2 linked regions of the Homo sapiens genome follow. The protein of the gene in region 1 interacts with the protein of each later gene in a pairwise test. Each region holds a gene or a part of one and is shown in the gene's direction. Other genes may lie near its edges. The genes, in order: ARHGAP30 and RHOU.

Region 1 (9,465 bases):
CAGTGGCCTGTCTCCAGCAGACCCCCAGGAAGACTCTGGGAAGCAGGTGGACCTAGTGTCAGCCTCGGTGGTGGTGGTGGGTGTGATCGCCGCACTCTTGTTCTGCCTTCTGGTGGTGGTGGTGGTGCTCATGTCCCGATACCATCGGCGCAAGGCCCAGCAGATGACCCAGAAATAGTGAGTACTGGGCACTCCTGGGTGGGTAGAACTAAGCTGAGAACAAAGAAGAGGATAGCAGGAGGTGGGCCAGGACCGAGGAGACTGGGTAGGCTGAAAACTGAGGAGTTTCAGACTAGAGGTGGGCAGGGTGTTTCTAGGGCTGAGGAGGAGCTAAGGGTCTGGAGCACAGATGGAGCACTCAATCCTTCCACCTTAGTGAGGCTCAGATCCATGTGCCTGGATGTTGCCAAGTATGCACACGCACACAGCACACACATGCTCTTCAGCCTCACTGCCACCTGCAGCCACACACTCACACTTGCAGGGCCAGCACGGCACCCACACCCTCCGGGCCTGTCTCACTAGGCTCAGCCAGGATAGGCTCACCTTGGGAGGCTGCCACTACCCTCAGCTCCTGACAAGGGTGTGTCTTTCCCAGTGAGGAGGAGCTGACCCTGACCAGGGAGAACTCCATCCGGAGGCTGCATTCCCATCACACGGACCCCAGGAGCCAGGTGTGTGCCAAGGTTGGGTGTATGCATGCAGGGGTGTGGTCGCATTGGGGTCTGCTTGTGCCTGGGCCCCTCTGCAGACCAGGAGCACAGCTCTCTGCTGGGTCAGCCACTGACTCACAGCTGGGGTTGGCCGGGGTAGAGTTGAGAGGGTGTAGCTGCTTTGGGTCTGCTAGGGCTGCTCCAGAAGGCCCCCTTCAGCATTGGCCTAGGGCCTTTTCTGGGAAGCCACCATCAGTTCTGCTTCCAGGGTGGGTTTGTGGTCGCAGTGGGGAAATGAGGATGTTTGTTTCCAGGAGAGAATGGACCTGTTGGGTTGGGGGACAGGCAAGTAGGGAGGAGGCTGGTGGAGGACAAGAGGGGAAGAGGCTGAGGGGAGGAGGCTGAGCCCTGTTCTAACTGCCCCGTGTCTGGGCCCTGCAGCCGGAGGAGAGTGTAGGGCTGAGAGCCGAGGGCCACCCTGATAGTCTCAAGGACAACAGTAGCTGCTCTGTGATGGTGAGGCCCCCGGCCCCACCGGTGTCCCCACCACTCTCCTCGGGCCCCTGTCCTGGTCCCAGATATGGTGCGTCAGCAGCCCCCTTACCAGTCCCTCTTTCCTTAGCCCTGGCTCATGCAGCCCAGCACCGCATCTCTGCTACGTCTTTGTTCTCCCGTCTCCCTCTCCCCATGCCTAACACTTGTTCCTGGTCCCCGATCTCTGGGCCCCTATGCTTCTGAGGCAACCGTTACCCCTGCTTACGCCTGGCCTCTGATCCCACCATGACCCAGCCATGCCCCACCATGTGCAGCTGCCCTGCCTTTGTTCCTGACTTGCCCTTTGCCCTTGGTCTCCAGAGTGAAGAGCCCGAGGGCCGCAGTTACTCCACGCTGACCACGGTGAGGGAGATAGAAACACAGACTGAACTGCTGTCTCCAGGCTCTGGGCGGGCCGAGGAGGAGGAAGATCAGGATGAAGGCATCAAACAGGCCATGAACCATTTTGTTCAGGAGAATGGGACCCTACGGGCCAAGCCCACGGGCAATGGCATCTACATCAATGGGCGGGGACACCTGGTCTGACCCAGGCCTGCCTCCCTTCCCTAGGCCTGGCTCCTTCTGTTGACATGGGAGATTTTAGCTCATCTTGGGGGCCTCCTTAAACACCCCCATTTCTTGCGGAAGATGCTCCCCATCCCACTGACTGCTTGACCTTTACCTCCAACCCTTCTGTTCATCGGGAGGGCTCCACCAATTGAGTCTCTCCCACCATGCATGCAGGTCACTGTGTGTGTGCATGTGTGCCTGTGTGAGTGTTGACTGACTGTGTGTGTGTGGAGGGGTGACTGTCCGTGGAGGGGTGACTGTGTCCGTGGTGTGTATTATGCTGTCATATCAGAGTCAAGTGAACTGTGGTGTATGTGCCACGGGATTTGAGTGGTTGCGTGGGCAACACTGTCAGGGTTTGGCGTGTGTGTCATGTGGCTGTGTGTGACCTCTGCCTGAAAAAGCAGGTATTTTCTCAGACCCCAGAGCAGTATTAATGATGCAGAGGTTGGAGGAGAGAGGTGGAGACTGTGGCTCAGACCCAGGTGTGCGGGCATAGCTGGAGCTGGAATCTGCCTCCGGTGTGAGGGAACCTGTCTCCTACCACTTCGGAGCCATGGGGGCAAGTGTGAAGCAGCCAGTCCCTGGGTCAGCCAGAGGCTTGAACTGTTACAGAAGCCCTCTGCCCTCTGGTGGCCTCTGGGCCTGCTGCATGTACATATTTTCTGTAAATATACATGCGCCGGGAGCTTCTTGCAGGAATACTGCTCCGAATCACTTTTAATTTTTTTCTTTTTTTTTTCTTGCCCTTTCCATTAGTTGTATTTTTTATTTATTTTTATTTTTATTTTTTTTTAGAGATGGAGTCTCACTATGTTGCTCAGGCTGGCCTTGAACTCCTGGGCTCAAGCAATCCTCCTGCCTCAGCCTCCCTAGTAGCTGGGACTTTAAGTGTACACCACTGTGCCTGCTTTGAATCCTTTACGAAGAGAAAAAAAAAATTAAAGAAAGCCTTTAGATTTATCCAATGTTTACTACTGGGATTGCTTAAAGTGAGGCCCCTCCAACACCAGGGGGTTAATTCCTGTGATTGTGAAAGGGGCTACTTCCAAGGCATCTTCATGCAGGCAGCCCCTTGGGAGGGCACCTGAGAGCTGGTAGAGTCTGAAATTAGGGATGTGAGCCTCGTGGTTACTGAGTAAGGTAAAATTGCATCCACCATTGTTTGTGATACCTTAGGGAATTGCTTGGACCTGGTGACAAGGGCTCCTGTTCAATAGTGGTGTTGGGGAGAGAGAGAGCAGTGATTATAGACCGAGAGAGTAGGAGTTGAGGTGAGGTGAAGGAGGTGCTGGGGGTGAGAATGTCGCCTTTCCCCCTGGGTTTTGGATCACTAATTCAAGGCTCTTCTGGATGTTTCTCTGGGTTGGGGCTGGAGTTCAATGAGGTTTATTTTTAGCTGGCCCACCCAGATACACTCAGCCAGAATACCTAGATTTAGTACCCAAACTCTTCTTAGTCTGAAATCTGCTGGATTTCTGGCCTAAGGGAGAGGCTCCCATCCTTCGTTCCCCAGCCAGCCTAGGACTTCGAATGTGGAGCCTGAAGATCTAAGATCCTAACATGTACATTTTATGTAAATATGTGCATATTTGTACATAAAATGATATTCTGTTTTTAAATAAACAGACAAAACTTGTTCTGTCTGGCTCCTGTCTTGCCCCTTGAACTGTGTAAGCTCTGAGTCACATACTCTCTGTCTCGGTACCATCCTTCCTGTAGTCCCAAGTAGGGGAAGACTTAGGATGCCTGTAGCTGGGAGGGAAGGGAAAGAATTGGCCTCCACAAGGCCTTTGGCCATCTCTGAGAGTCCCCTGGTAGGAAAGTGAAGCTAAGAACCCTTTCGAGGATGGCCAGTACCTTAGTTTGCAAAGTGTTTTAAATTCCTTTTTTTTTTTTTTTTGAGATGAAGTCTCACTTTGTCACCCAGGCTGGAGTGCAGTGGCACTATCTCAGCTCACTGCAACCTCCGACTCCCAGGTTCAAGCGATTCTCTCACCTCAGCCTCCCGTATAGCTGGGATTACAGGCACCCGTCACCATGCTCAGTTAGTTTTTGTATTTTTAGTAGAGACAGGGTTTCACCATGTTGGCCAAGCTGGTCTCGAACTCCTGACCTCAGGTGATTCACCCGCCTCAGCCTCCCAAAGTGCTGGGATTACAGGCGTGAGCCACTGCGCCCAGCCTGAATTCCTTATTGTACTGGAGACTCAACAACAGCTATGTGAAATAGGCAGCAGTGTACCCTTTTTTACAGGTAAAGAAACTGAAACTCAAGTTAAATGAGTTTTACAGACTCTTAGAGGTGGGAGGATTTAAAGGTCCTCTAGTCTGCTCCCTTCATTTTCCTAGGTTTGGAAACTGAGGCTCAGTGAAGTAATGCGATTTGACTGAGGTGCTAGATCCATCAGAGGCAGAACCCAGGCATCCTCCCTTGTGAGTGTGCTTTTTACAGCCCTGTGTCAACTTGCTCCCAGGCAAGCCCCAGGTCTCTACCTTGGACCCAAGAATTCTGGTCTCTAAGGGAGTTGGTCACCTGCTCACACCACAGACGCCATCACCCCACCCCAGGGCTCTGACATCACCTCCCCTGACCAATGAATGAAGTCCAAGCAAAGGGTGAGGATGTGAATGTCAGCTACCTCCCCCACCCTAGGCCCTGTGGTTGCAAAGATGCTCTAACAGGAAGTGGGTTAAGGAGCTGCACTGCTTCCTGCCCCCTAAAGCTGAGCGGGGCGAGGAGGGCGAGTGCCAGGCTGGGCCACGAGACACAGGACACAATTTCTTGCCAGGGTCCTGGTAGCTTCCTCTTCAACAGCCACTTCCGTGTGGCCGGGGCCCCAGGGGCAGGAGCTGCTGCCCGTTGCCCAGGCCACCCTCCACCCCCAATTGGGAGCCCTGCCCCCCTGGGGCCGGGCCAAGCCCAGCAGCTGGCTGGGATCCCATGGGGGACTGGTAGGGCACAGGTCTTGGGGGATAGAGGTGACCGGGCCAGTGCCCTGGGGCTCTGGCCATGAAGTCTCGGCAGAAAGGAAAGAAGAAGGGCAGCGCAAAGGAGCGGGTTTTTGGGTGCGACTTGCAGGAGCACCTGCAGCACTCAGGCCAGGAGGGTAAGGAGGCCGGCTCAGCTTCTGCAGGGTGGGTGGGGAGGCACTGGGCATCTGCAGCCCGATCCAGCCTGAAGGGCAGAAGCAGTTTCCGGTGCTCCTGGGGAAGGGGCAGTGGCCTGGGGTCACCATTCAAGAGAACTGTAAGTGGGCAAGACAGGAAATGTGGCTCAGTGAAGAAGGCAGGGCGGCTCCCTTGTGTAACTTTCTGGGGATGGGGTGGCTGAGGGGATGAGAATGTGAGTACCCAGGTAGCAGTGAGGGGGAGGATGGAGAGACTGGAAACCGAGGAGGAGTGGATGAAACAGCGGGCAGGTGACTGGGAACAGGAGAGGGAGGGTGAGGCGACAGGGTCAGGAGAGGAGTGGCTGAAGGGGAAATGATTATCCTTAGGTCTGAATGAAAGGAGACAGGGAAATGGCCCCAGAAGGGTCTCAAGATGGCCCTTGAGGCGGGTGGTTTCCTGGCTGGAGAACACCCAAGGACAAGGTCATGGGCTCTGTTCCCACTGCAGCCTTGCTGGGCCGCAGGGGATGATGTCGGGCTGGAAACAACCTCTGCCCCTAGTCTTTGTGATTCTCTTGTTGTCCCTGTGCAAAAGAGAAACAGGTTCAAAGTGGGGGGCAAGGGGAGAAGCTGCTGAAATGGGGAAGAATGAAAGAGAGGGTGTGAGGCCTGGCTTGAAGCTGGAGGTGGAGGGTGCAAAGGAGGGTGGGTGTGGAGCTGTCTGTGGAGCTCACCCAGCTCCCTCCCTGGGTTACCTTAGAGTGGGCTTTGAAGCCAGAAGGACCAGGGACAATATCAGGTTCACAACGGGGCCTGGCATGGAGCAGCCACTCAAAATCATTTCTTGATTCAATTTGAAATTGAACCCAGGCACCCTGGCTGCCCAGCCCAGCTTGTTTTTGGCACTTCAAGCTCCTCCTAGAGAAAGGCATAATTCTTTCCCCACTCCACCCCATTCCACCCCACCCCAATCTGTCATTTCCTCTTTGTCCCCTCCTCTGCTCTGGGCTGTGGTGCTTGCAGCGGAGGGAGGGTGATGGTGGTTCCCAGATCATTTCCTGCTCTTAGCCCCGCCCCTGCGTCCCCAGACACCTCCTTCCCCTTTTCTCCTCCAGTGAGAGGACCCCTATCCCCATTGCCCTTGGTTAAGGGAAAGCCCAGACCCCAAGGAAGAGTGTTAAACAGCTGAAGCGAGCTTATTTGAGCCTTCCTCTTCTCACTGGGCAGAGTGGAGGTGGCACAGCCATCAGTGCAGGGCTTACTCCTTTCTAAGGGACTCCTCTCAAGAGCTATGATTCTTAGCCAAGGATTATGAGATTTAATTGGGGATGATGTGCTCCTCCCAGCTCAATGCAAACCCTCAGTTCAGCCTTTCCTGGTACTGCCCTTTTTTGTGGTCCACCAACCAATTTTATCTTGAAACACTGAACCCACAGCCAGCCCAGACCCTGCTCCTATAACCCTCCCGGCCTCTTCCTGGATTCCTAGCAGGGAAGGGGCACACTCTCTAGAGGGGACAGACAGATCTGATTGCTGAATCCTGATCCTAGGTGAATCCGAGAGCAGGAGACCAGAACCTCACAGAACCCAAGGGTGGGTTGATCTTGGGCACCAGAGTAGCAGTGGTGGCTCCTTCCCTATCCCTCAGGTCTTCCTGGTACAGAGAGGTGGAAAGTGGAAGGAAGGACAGAGAGAGGCTGGTGATGGTTCCTCTCTTTAATCCAACATCCACAAAAAAATGAGAGCAGAGAGATCTTTGTTTTCGCTTAATTTATCCTCCCTGATCACGTTGGTCTCCCCCATCCCCACAGCCTTGCTCCATCTCAGCCCTCTCTCCAGCTCTTTGCCCCCACATGGGTCTCTTCCTTCCTTAAGCCCTGTATATACTGAATTCTTTCTTTTCCTAATCTTTGATAGATTGTTCAGGTTTCTTTCTTTCTTTCTTTCTTTCTTTTTTGAGATGGAGTCTTGCTCTGTCCCAGGCTGGAGTGTAGTGGGGTGATCTCGGCTCACTGCAACCTCTGCCTCCCAGGTTCAAGCAGTTCTCCTGCCTCAGCCTCCAGAGTAGCTGGGATTACAGGCAGGCACCACCACACCCAGCTAATTTTTGTATTTTTAGTAGAGACAGGGTTTCACCATGTTGGCCAGGCTGGTCTCGAACACTGACCTCATGATCCACCCGCCTCGGCCTCCCAAAGTGCTGGGATTACAGGCGTGAGCCACCGCACCTGGCCGATTGTTCAGGTTTCTAATTCTCAGGTCCCTAAGCTTTTGGCCTTCCTCCCTGACCCTACTCTTATTTCCTCGATGTCTCCATCCCTTTGACTTCATCGCTCCAATCCTGTCTGTAGGTTTTATCTCTGATCTCATCTCTCTGATCTCTATCTCCCTAACTCCCCCATCTCTGTGACCCTGTTGTCTCTTCCCCCATCTCCTTGACCCAGTTCTTCTATGGCTGTGACTCCTTAGGCTTTTGAGTGTCCCCTTTAAAGGACTCTGGAGGTTCAAAATCAGCAGAGAAGGATAGGATAGAGAAGACCTGGTTTGTATGCTGCTCATGTGACAAAAACCTGGTGGTTTAGGTGACAGCAGACTATTTATGAGTCAAAAGAGTTGGCTTAGCATTAGGCACCCGAGAGTACAGCAGCAGCTCAGACAAGGAGGGGCCTGCCCTATCTCTGCATTCAATGCTGGGAACCTGAGGTCAGTGGGATCCTAGAAAATGGGAGTAGGTACTGAAACGATGGATGGTGAACTGTAGGACTGAGACTAAGACGAGGCAAGAGACATGACTAGGGTGCAAAATTTAAGGAAGCACTCACTTTCAGTGTCGTACAATTGCCCTAGGTGCCTTTTTTTTTTTTTTTTTTTTTTTTTTTTGAGATGCAGTCTTGCTCTGTCACCCAGGCTGGAGTGCAGCACAACCATCTTGGCTTACTGCAACCTCGACCTCCAGGGTTCAAGCAATTCTCCCTGCCTCAGCCTCTCGAGTAGCTGGGACTACAGGCACCACCACGCCTGGCTAATTTTTGTACTTTTTAGTGGAGACGGGGTTTTGCCATGTTGGCCAGGCTAGTCTTGAACTCCTGAGCTCAGGTGATCCACTCGCCTCGGCCTCCCAAAGTGCTGGGATTACAGGTGTGAGCCACCACACCAGGCCCCTAGATGCCTCATTCTCAAGGAGGTACTCAAGACCGTGCATGGGCATGGTTGGCATCTCCATGGCCCTGAGAATAAGTGCTTCCTTAAATTTTGCACACTAGATGCTTCCCTAATCCCACCCAACTCCTGGCTGTGGTGTGCAGGAGGATGAAGGGTCTGAAAGCCAGGTCGTATGAGGAGAGTTGAAAGATTTTGGTTGGCTGAGCATGGTGGCTCACGCCTGTAATCCCAGCACTTTGGGAGGCCAAGGCGGGTGGATCACTTGAGGTCAGGAGTTTGAGGCCAGCCTGGCCAACATGGTGAGATTCCGTCTCTACTAAAAATACAAAAATTAGCTGGACATGGTGGTGTGCGCCTGTAGTCCCAGCTACTCGGGAGGCTGAGGCTTCAGTGAGCCAAGACTGCACCACTGCACTCCAGCCTGGGCAACAAAGTGAGACTCTGTCTCAAATAAATAAATAAATAAATAAATAAATAAATAAATAAATAAATAAGGGGCCGGGTGCAGTGGCTCACGCCTGTAATCCCAACACTTTGGGAAGCCAAGGTGGGTGGATCACCTGAGGTCGGGAGTTTGAGACCAGCCTGACCAACATGGAGAAACTCTGTCTCTACTAGAAATATAAAAATTAGCCGGGCAGAGTGGTGGGTGCCTGTAATCCTAGCTACTTGGGAGGCTGAGGCAGGAGAATCTCTTGAATCTGGGAGGCGGAGGTTGCAGTGAACTGAGATCGCGCCATTGCACTCTCCAGCCTGGGCAACAAGAGTGAAACTCCGTCTCAGAAAAAAAAAGAAAAGAAAAAAGAAAAAAGAAAAAGAAAAAAGAAAAAGGAAAGATTGGGATTGATGAATTTATTGATTATTTTCTTCATTCCATATTTCTGTCATACTTTATTCAACAAAGAGCTTGGAATGACTTTCAAAACCTAAAACTTTACAAAAAATTAGAATAAATGATTGAAGGAATTGGGTTGAAGGAAAAACAAGAGGAAGAGAAAGATCAGCACCCAGAAATGCATATTACATTGTTCTGTATGGTTCTTAGAGGTGGGCTCTGAGCTTCCTAGTGGTTAAAGAGGTAAACATAGGCCAGGCCCAGTGGCTCACGCCTGTAATCCCAGCACTTTAGGAGGCCGAGGCAGGCAGATCACTTGTGGTCAGGAGTTCGAGGCCAGCCTGGCCAACATGGTGAGACCCCATCCCTACTAAATAACATAAAAATTAGCAGGGCATGGTGGCGTGCACCTGTAGTCCTGGCTACTCAGGAGGCTGAGGCACCAGAACTGCTTGAATGCACCCCAACTCAAAATAAATAAATAAATAAACATAATCAAGTGCAAGACTCATGGGCCCATAAGGAAAAAAAGTTAGATGGTTTAGGAGAACCACAGCTTTTTCCCCCTTCCCTTCCCTTCTTCCCTTCCCTTCCCTTCC
Region 2 (8,819 bases), about 68 Mb from region 1:
AATATGTTGAGCAGATAAAAATTTATTTATTTCTTAAATATATCAAAAGATACAAAAGTGACATGTACACAGTGGAAAGTCTATTAGGACCTTTTTTTCTTTTTACCATTTTAGTAAAAAACTACAAATTCACTATTAATTATTTGCTAGTGGAACAGTTAAAATAACTTGATGGAAAAAATCCTAGAAAATGTATTAATACTGTGCTAGGGGAAGAGTTTTGTGAACTGGGGATCCTCCCTTTTAGGGGATTATGAGCAAGGGTAGGTGTTGTATAATCAGTAGATGATTTCACTAGATAAGGGCTGTGATAGGGACAAGCACAAATATATCCACATAAGGGGTCAGGGAACATTTCTGGACTTGGATGAAACACCAATTTGTTTGGTGTGGAGGTCTGCTTTCCTACGTTGCCTGTAGAAGATTCTTATGAATAGGGCAAGCGTTAGTTCTGAGCATTTTAGATAAGGCTGTAGGGGACTGATTCAGTTGAGCCCAGAAAGATGGGCCCAAATGAGTGGGTGTGGGACAGTTCAACATAAAAAGGGGTAAAGCAAGAGAGGGAGGCTATGGAACACAAAAACGAACAGATGGCCAGATGGAGAAGCAAAGCCAAGTTTTGTCGGGCCTGAAGCTTATCACATTTTGAGGACTTCATTAAGAAAAAGAACACAAAATTAAGTATAGAAAATTAGGCAGAAAAATAAACATCCTTGGAGGAGGTGACACCTAAGCGGAGAAAGAGCAAGTTCATGGAAGAAGGAGGAAGGGGTTACAGACCTGTAGTTCGAGGAGAAGACACCTTCTCTGACATGTTGTTGGGGACCCAGGGGTGGGTTGCTGGAAGTCCTGGAGGAGGTGTTGGGGGTAGGTAGGGGGGATGAATGCTCACAGCTGGGCTGGAGGGCCTCAGAGAGACAAGATCTTAAGAACGGAAATTCTGCACCCAGTTTTCAGAATTTTCTAGGCCCACTGCACAATGAAGGCGTTGTACTGTCTTGGTGAAAAACAAATGGGAATACATGAGGTGTAATGCATTTTTTGTCTTAAAACTGAGCAAAGACATGGTTTTCTATTAATAGCTGCAAGAAGTGGTCAAATTTCCTTCATTCATTCTAAAAATATTTTATAAAAGCATAAAAATACAACTGTCCATGTTTTGAGAGTCCATGTTTTACATTCTTCTCCTTTTCTTTCTTTCTTTTTTGCAGAACCGTCAAGTTCAAAACATGTTTTCCTTTCACTTACGTATTTACCACTGCTTAAGTATTTATTAAGCACCTACTACTTGCCCCACGTGCTTCTAAGTGTGGGATATAGGAATGAGCAACATTAAGTTTCTGATTTCATGGAGCTTGTAAGAGGAGACAGACAATAAGCAAATAAACAAACAAATATATCATACAACTTGAACCCACACACCTTGGAGGGCTTCTTGTAGCATTAGTTCCAAGCATTTTAGATAAGGCTGTAGGGGACTGATTAAGTCGAGCCCAGAAACATGGACCCAAATGAGTGGGTGCGGGACAGTTCAACGTAAAAAGGGGTAAAGTAAAGGCATTCTGTAAAGGGGTAAAGTGGTAGGCATTCTGTCATCTCTCTGCTTTTGGACTTGGATGAAATACCGAACTGTTTGGCGTGGGGTCTGATTTCCTATGTTGCCTACAGAAGAGTCTCATGAATAGGGCAAACATTAGTTCCCGGCATTTTAGATAAGGATGCAGGGAGCTGACTAAGTTGTGTCCAGAAAAACGGGCCCAAATGAGTGGGCGTGGGATGATATTCAGCATGAGAAGGGGAAAAGCAAGAGGGGGACGCACAGGACACAAAAACTGACAGCTGGCCAGATGGAGGGGCAAAGCCAAGTTTTGTAGGGCCTGAGGCTTATCACATTTGTGAGACTTCATTAAGAAAAAAAAATACAAAATTAAGAATAGAAAATTAGATACAAAAACAAATGTTTAAAGTGAGAAATGCATCACAATAAGTTACAAATTTTAAAAGGCTAACAAACACCATAAACTTAAACAAAATACATAAGACATGACATTTTAATAAACTGCTTGACACACTTCTATGACATTATTTTCATTTTTCAGTTGCATACCCTTTGATCACTTCTTCAGTTTTGTAAGATATTTTCTATAAGAACAATAGGAAGTTACTTCACACACAGGTGAACTTGCTTTTTGTTGTACTACTACAGCCTCATGTCCTTACAAACATGGGAATTCAGATCATTCATTTCATGTGATTTTTCTCCAAAAATGTATGATGCATTTGTAAGTGTATCTGCTGCATTTAGAGTACAGGTACATTTCTGACAGCAGACAACTTCTGTTTTGATCAGGTTTAGTAGAGAGAACCAAACCTTCTCTAACAATGTTGTGTTTTCTTCTGTTTGTTTCTTTTTGAGACAGTGTCTCACTCTCGCCCAGGCTAGAGTATATTGGTTGATCAAGGGCTCACTGGAGCCTCGACTTCCCAGGCTCAAGTGATCCTCCTACCTCAGCCTCTGGAGTATTTGGATTACAGGTGTGAGTCACCACACCTGGCTAATTTTTTTATTTTTGGTAGAGACAGGGTTTCGCCATGTTGGCCAAGCTGGTCTCGAACTCGTGGCCTCAACCGGTCTGACTGCTTCAGCCCCCCAAAGTGTTGGGATTACAGGCGTGAGCCACCGCACCAGCCGATATTAGGTGCTTTATGATGGAAAGAATTGCCAGACTAGCTTCCAGCTCTGCCCATCTCAAGCTCTGCTACTCTTGCTACTGGAACCCTTCTAGTGTTGGGGAAAGTAAGACAGTTAAGGGCACCAATGTGACTCTCACAGAGGGTCATAGGTATGTCAGTGGTAGCCATTCCTATACCTGGATGGCTAGCAACAACATATCTACATAGGAGAACTGTAAACCACATAAATATATCCTGTCATCACAGCCAGGGCGAGGGAGAGGCAAGTCAGGTACCTGAGGCTCAAAACTTAACATTGGCACTTGCCTGACCCTGAGAGTAAGGGCCCTCTAAATTTGTTGTTTTTTGATATTGCCTCTGAATGCTCAATTTGTCATAAATTTTGCATCCTTGACATCCCCCTTATCTCACCTTCATCCTGATTCTGTATCCCATTACACCCAAACAACCTGTTTGGGTCTCCCCAACTTCACTTTCTTTGGCTGATCCCCAAAATCTTCATGGCCTCTTCAAAGTCACTCAATATGAGGGTAAGTTACAGTTTAAAAAGACAGTGAACATAACTGGTGGTGATTAAAATACTTTTTTTTTTTTCAAAATTTACAGAAACATATTACCACGTGTACACATTGCTAGGTCTTCCAATGTGAAAGTGTCCTTTGCAAGTCAGGGGTCCTGGATTCAAGCTTCTAACTTCTTGATAAATCCATCTCTGCATTCTGACCATGGCCATACGTTCAAGATTACGTTTATCATACTGACTTATTTTTGCCTCCAGGATTTTGGTTAGAAGCTCAGGCTCTGGGGCTAGACTATTTGGGTTTGGATCCTGGCATTGCCACTTACTAGCTTGTGGAATCCCAAAACGTTACTTAATATCTCTGTGCCTCAGGTGTTCTCATCTGTAAGTAATGTTAAGATTAAAAGAATTAGTTCTTGAAGAGTGCTTACAACAGTATCTGACACATTATGAAAGTTCAGTATTTGTTATTGTTATTTTTACTACCACTAGTATCAATGTGTATTAATAATATGTGGCCCTTCTCACACCACGCTGTACACCCCCAGGACTCTTGGTATTCTGACTTGGCTAAGAGGCGTCCTTTTTCTGAATAGACTGTTGACCACATGTAGAAGGAAGGCAGAGAGAGAAATGAATCAAAGGGAAACGGAATATTTTTTCAGACATATTAATGTCTCCGAATTACCTTTAAGTAAATGAAGGAATTGGGGGTATAAAAAAATTTCTGGAGCATACATGTATAAAGGTTCACGGCATGCCGAAAGACAAAGTCAAAGGAGCATTCACAATGGAGCTGGCATCCTTTTGCTTCAAAATGAGAAAAAATCACACGATCAGCTGCAGTTAGACTTAAGGAAAAAAGCTGTCTGTTAATTCAATCTCATTCGCAGGACAGGCCTCCAGGACACTTCATTTTTCCCCCTGGGTGGAGCCGTGGCCAGCCGGGGGCTCCACGGAGTGAATAGGAGGCGGCTCAGGCTTCCTGGCTCGCGTGGGCGCCAGAAAGCGGAACCTCCCGGGCCAGTCGCGCGGTGGTCACCCTCTTGGGAGCTGGGGAGGAGGCTGCGGAGGCTGGCCCGGCTCCTTCGGGCGTCGCTTCCCGGACCGGGTGCGCGGGGTCCCCCGGAACGTGTGTTCCAGGTCCTCCCGCGCCAGTGTTCGCAGTCCCCGCCTGGTCGCGGCGGCGCCTCGGGCGCGGGTGCAGGCGCGCGGCGCGCAGGCGGGGGGCGCTGTGGTCTTGGCGCGGGGACCGAGCCGCTCGGCCAGACCCGCCTCTTTTCCCTCCCCGCCAGCCCGCCCGCCTGCCCGCCCCCCACGCGTCGTGTCGCCGGGAAGCCGGGCGGAGACAGAGCGCTTGGGATCCACGGCGCTCGGACCGCTGTCCTCCAACAGCGCAGGGCAGAGCGGCTGGCGCCGCCGGAGCGCGGAGCCACGACCCTCCCTGGCCGCCTTTGTCTACTGGCCGTGCGGCCCGGAACCGCCACTCTCCAGGGCCGGGGACGCGCCCGCAGCTGTCGGTGACAGCTCCTCCCTACCGCAACCCTCCGGGGCGGAGGGGCGGTCGGGCCGGGCCCTGCTAGCCCGCGACCGCAAGCCCGCGCTCGCGGATCGATGCCCCCGCAGCAGGGGGACCCCGCGTTCCCCGACCGCTGCGAGGCGCCTCCGGTGCCGCCGCGTCGGGAGCGCGGTGGACGCGGGGGACGCGGGCCTGGGGAGCCGGGGGGCCGGGGGCGTGCGGGGGGTGCCGAGGGGCGCGGCGTCAAGTGCGTGCTGGTCGGCGACGGCGCGGTGGGCAAGACGAGCCTGGTGGTGAGCTACACCACCAACGGCTACCCCACCGAGTACATCCCTACTGCCTTCGACAACTTCTCCGGTGAGCTGGCCGGGGGGCCGGGGCCGGGGGCGCGTGGCCGCGGTCCACCCAGGGGAAGGAAGGTGGCGCGAGGGTCGCGAGGTTCCCAAGGGGGCTGCAGGGCCCCGGGCGCGGCTCCAGCTGGGAAGCCGGACAAATGAGGAGTGCAGGACGTTTCCTGAGTCTCAGGGACCGGGCAAGCGCGGAGCTAACACGAAAGGACCACGGCGGAGTGGGCTTGGAGAGAGGAGGGCGGAGCGGCAGTCAGAGCCTTGCCAAAAAAAAAAAAAAAAAAAATCTCACAATTTAAGCAACAGATAAGTAGGAGTGAAACAGGTTGAGTTCAGGGTGCCCGGTCAGTTTGTTGCATAGAGCAAAGTTTCCTGAGGGCGACGTCGCTGGCGCCGCTGCAGAGTTTCAATCAGAAGGTGACGCGCAGGTGCCTTTACCTGAGCGTCGCTCCTTTGCTTTTAGGCGGCTCAGCTCACAAGGGGCGTCTCCGCTTTAAAGAGCCGCGGAGACGCCGGGAAAACACTTGATTTAGTGAAAAAGCGCGAGCGGCCCTCGTGAAGGCTTAGGTTTGGATGAAACCTGAAGAGTAAACACCATTTCTTTCTTCTGAGCCCCACCACCTTCCCTGCCCACATGGGCTCGGATTCTGATTGTTGGTATCTTTTCAGGATCCCTTTAAGCTACTTAAAGCTCCTATGTACCGGGTGCGATGCCATTTCCCTTGGTAGATACAAAGAGAAAGGAATTCTCTATCTTGCTATTCAGGTCTTTTTGAAATTTAAGAAAAAGTTAAAATTCACAGAAACTAGTATGAAACACTTAACTGTCTTGCTTCTTTAAAAAAAAATTGCTTCTCTGACCTTCCTTTCATCCCAAAGGTACCTTAGAGAAATGGGTGCTGTACTGGTGGGTTCCCACCGCAGGGTATTGTTTCTTCCCCTCCCCCCACCCCACCCCTGCAGCTGACTAGTATAAATATTTAGAAACAATTAGAAAGTTGTGTAGAAAGAGACAAAACTGACTGCTTAATTAAAATAGAAACCTCCACAACATGTCCTGCTGCAGGCCTCTCCACACTCCCCGAGTCCCCGGATCCCAGTGGAAAGGGGGCCATGGCTTTCTTTTTTCTTTTTTAATCCTCCTTTTGACCTGACATAGAGATAAGGAGTGCCCTCATTTCTTAAACAGGACAATGCGGGCAGCCTGTGTTTGCACATGTTCTCAAAACACACTAGAATTGTATGATAAACCCTGAAGTTGGGGAACCTTTCCCAAGGGAAAACAGAATTATTTGTGAGGTTTTCCACTGATTTAAAACTGCAGGGTTGCTTCCCATTTACCCCCAGTGTTGTTTTTAGGTCCTTTGAAACAAGTGTGACAGGAAAATAAATCTTCCAGGACTGGGAGAAAAGCATAGGCCTTTTTAGGGTCACCATCAAAGCGTTCAGGGATTTGCTGCCTGGTTCACGGTAATGGAGTGACTTGCCAGCCGTGGGTTTGTATACAAAAATGCCTCCACAGGGCCTCCTTGTTTTTGGCTAGTCTTTAATTCATTAGAGGACCTAAAATAGGAGCAAAGGGGTTTGGAGTGAGAATGATAGTGAAAGCTAAAACTATTAGTATTCCGAAAGGGGTTAAAAGACACCTCCTGATTGTCATTTTGGTTTTGTTTTTAAGCGGTGGTGTCTGTGGATGGGCGGCCCGTGAGACTCCAACTCTGTGACACTGCCGGACAGGTCAGTATCACGTTACAGCTCAGTGCTGGGAAAGGAAACAGCCTTTTAAAGATTTCCAAATAACCTTTGATTCCCTCAGTCAGTAACTGGGTCATTCTAAAGCCTCATGAAGTGGACCCACCCCTGCTGTTGGCCCTTCTCTGAGGGTGGGCAGGGGCCAGGTTATTGGCCGGCAGGAAGCAGAGGAAGATACCTCCAAACTAATAAAGCAGGGTTTGGCCCAGCTCTGCGTAACCAGGCAAGGGAGGAAGCAGTGTCAAGAACAGCTCTTGTAGGAGTTTCTATTACTTACTCCCTGGTTTTTATGAAAAAATTTCAGTGATGCTTTGTCATCATTTCCCAAACTAAGTTAGTGATGTCTTATAATCGTTTTATTAAAGGCCAGTGAGTCAGATATTGAAGAAATTTGCTCAAGAAAAAGATGGAATTTACATCAGTAAGGGTTAATATTTCCCTTCCTGAGCTATGGTTTGACTCGCTAGGACCAGCCCCATCACTTGAAGCACAGATACATTTGTCAGAGCAGTCCTAAGCTGGAGGGATGAACTAACTGGGCTTATTCTATCCAAACTGTGAACGCTGGTTCTTGTCTCGAGGGCTGGGCCCTTGGAGGAAATAGCCAGGGAGTGTAGGGTTCCCTCTTTGTGTTCCCCAGAAGAAGCCCCCATTGGTGGGTACTCGAGTCATTGAAGTCAGGCTGTGCCTTGTGAACACCCAGGGGTACTTGATTTTGGCAAAGTGATAGTTAATGAACTTGTCTCTCTAGTATGTTCTAGAGTTCAGCAAAGTTCCGGGGGTACTTTGTAGGCAGGTGAAAGTGCCCCCTTCACTTTCTGAGGTGCCATCACATGACTATCTGTGTTTATGAAGGCACTGGCTTTCCACTGCCCCCCAGAGCCTCATCTACGCCAGAGCTTCCAAGTTGCTCACCTACTCTGGGACAGCAGATTCAGAGCTAAGGACAGATCTTATTTTTTAAACCTGAAGATGACATAAGACCGTGGAGCCTTGATCTCCAAGGAACACCGGGCTGGTGCAGGCCATAGCTTGGGAGCACTTCAGCTTGGAAAAACCAAGCACTGTCCGTATTGTATTGTCTGTAGAAAACAAAAATCAGGCTGGGTGTGGTGGCTCATGCTCTTTGGGAGGCTGAGGTGGGAGGATTGCATGAGGCCAGGAATTTGAGACCAGCCTGGGTAGCATAGCAAGACATCATCTCTACAAAATAAAAAAATTAGCCTGGTGTGGTGGCACTGTCTGTAGTCCCAGCCACCAGCCACTCAGGAGGCTGAGGTGAGAGGATCGCTTGAACCCAGGAGTTTGAGGCTGTAGTGAGCTATGATGGTGCCACTGCACTCCAGCCTGGGCGACAGAGCAAGATCCCATCTCTTGGGGGTAAAAAAAAAGAAAAATCAAAGAATACAGTCACTTCTAGCACTGAATCTTTCTGAATGCAATGGTGATATTTATAATTCAAGCTTCATTTCCTTGTATGAAGTGAGGATGCTTTGTCTACCAGGGGGTCAGGTTTTCTGAGTTTTAAAACATGGCCAGCCAGGCGCGGTTGCTCACGCCTGTAATCCCAGCACTTTGGGAGGCTGAGACGGGTGGATCATGAGGTCAGGAGTTCAAGACCAGCCTGGCCAAGATGGTGAAACCCCGTCTCTACTAAAAATACAAAAATTAGCTGGGTGTGGTGCCGGGCGCCTGTAATAGCAGCTACTCAGGAGCCTGAGGCAGACAGTTGCTTGAACCTGGGAGGCGGAGGTTGCAGTGGGCTGAGATCGCGTCACTGCCCTGCAGCCTGGTTGACAGAGAGAGATTCCATCTCAAAAAAAATAAAACACAGGCAGAGGAACATGTCAGTAAACATAGCCATCGGACCTGCTGAAGTCAGACCCTGAGGATAAGATGGAAGTCAGGAAAATACAGGAAGTCCAAAGGCACAGTTAGCAGGGAGCCTTACGGGCTGGAGCAGAAGCTCAGTGCACCTACCTGCCCC

The links.
Region 2: the proteins of ARHGAP30 (region 1) and RHOU interact in binary tests that used the Homo sapiens proteins (3 or more experiments, as listed by UniProt).

What each region holds. Positions count from the first base shown.
Region 1 is NC_000001.11:161,064,929-161,074,393, reverse strand, and holds the start of ARHGAP30 (rho GTPase-activating protein 30), read left to right. Parts: upstream 1-4,502; 5' UTR 4,503-4,769; coding exon 4,770-4,866; intron 4,867-9,465. Other genes in the region: NECTIN4 (nectin-4), read left to right, coding at 18-177, 599-674, 1,095-1,169, 1,509-1,733. UniProt on the Homo sapiens protein: GTPase-activating protein (GAP) for RAC1 and RHOA, but not for CDC42.
Region 2 is NC_000001.11:228,730,915-228,739,733, forward strand, and holds the start of RHOU (rho-related GTP-binding protein RhoU), read left to right. Parts: upstream 1-4,564; 5' UTR 4,565-4,828; coding exon 4,829-5,090; intron 5,091-6,758; coding exon 6,759-6,817; intron 6,818-8,819. UniProt on the Homo sapiens protein: Binds to and activates protein kinase PAK1. Plays a role in the regulation of cell morphology, cytoskeletal organization and focal adhesion assembly during cell migration. Also stimulates quiescent cells to reenter the cell cycle.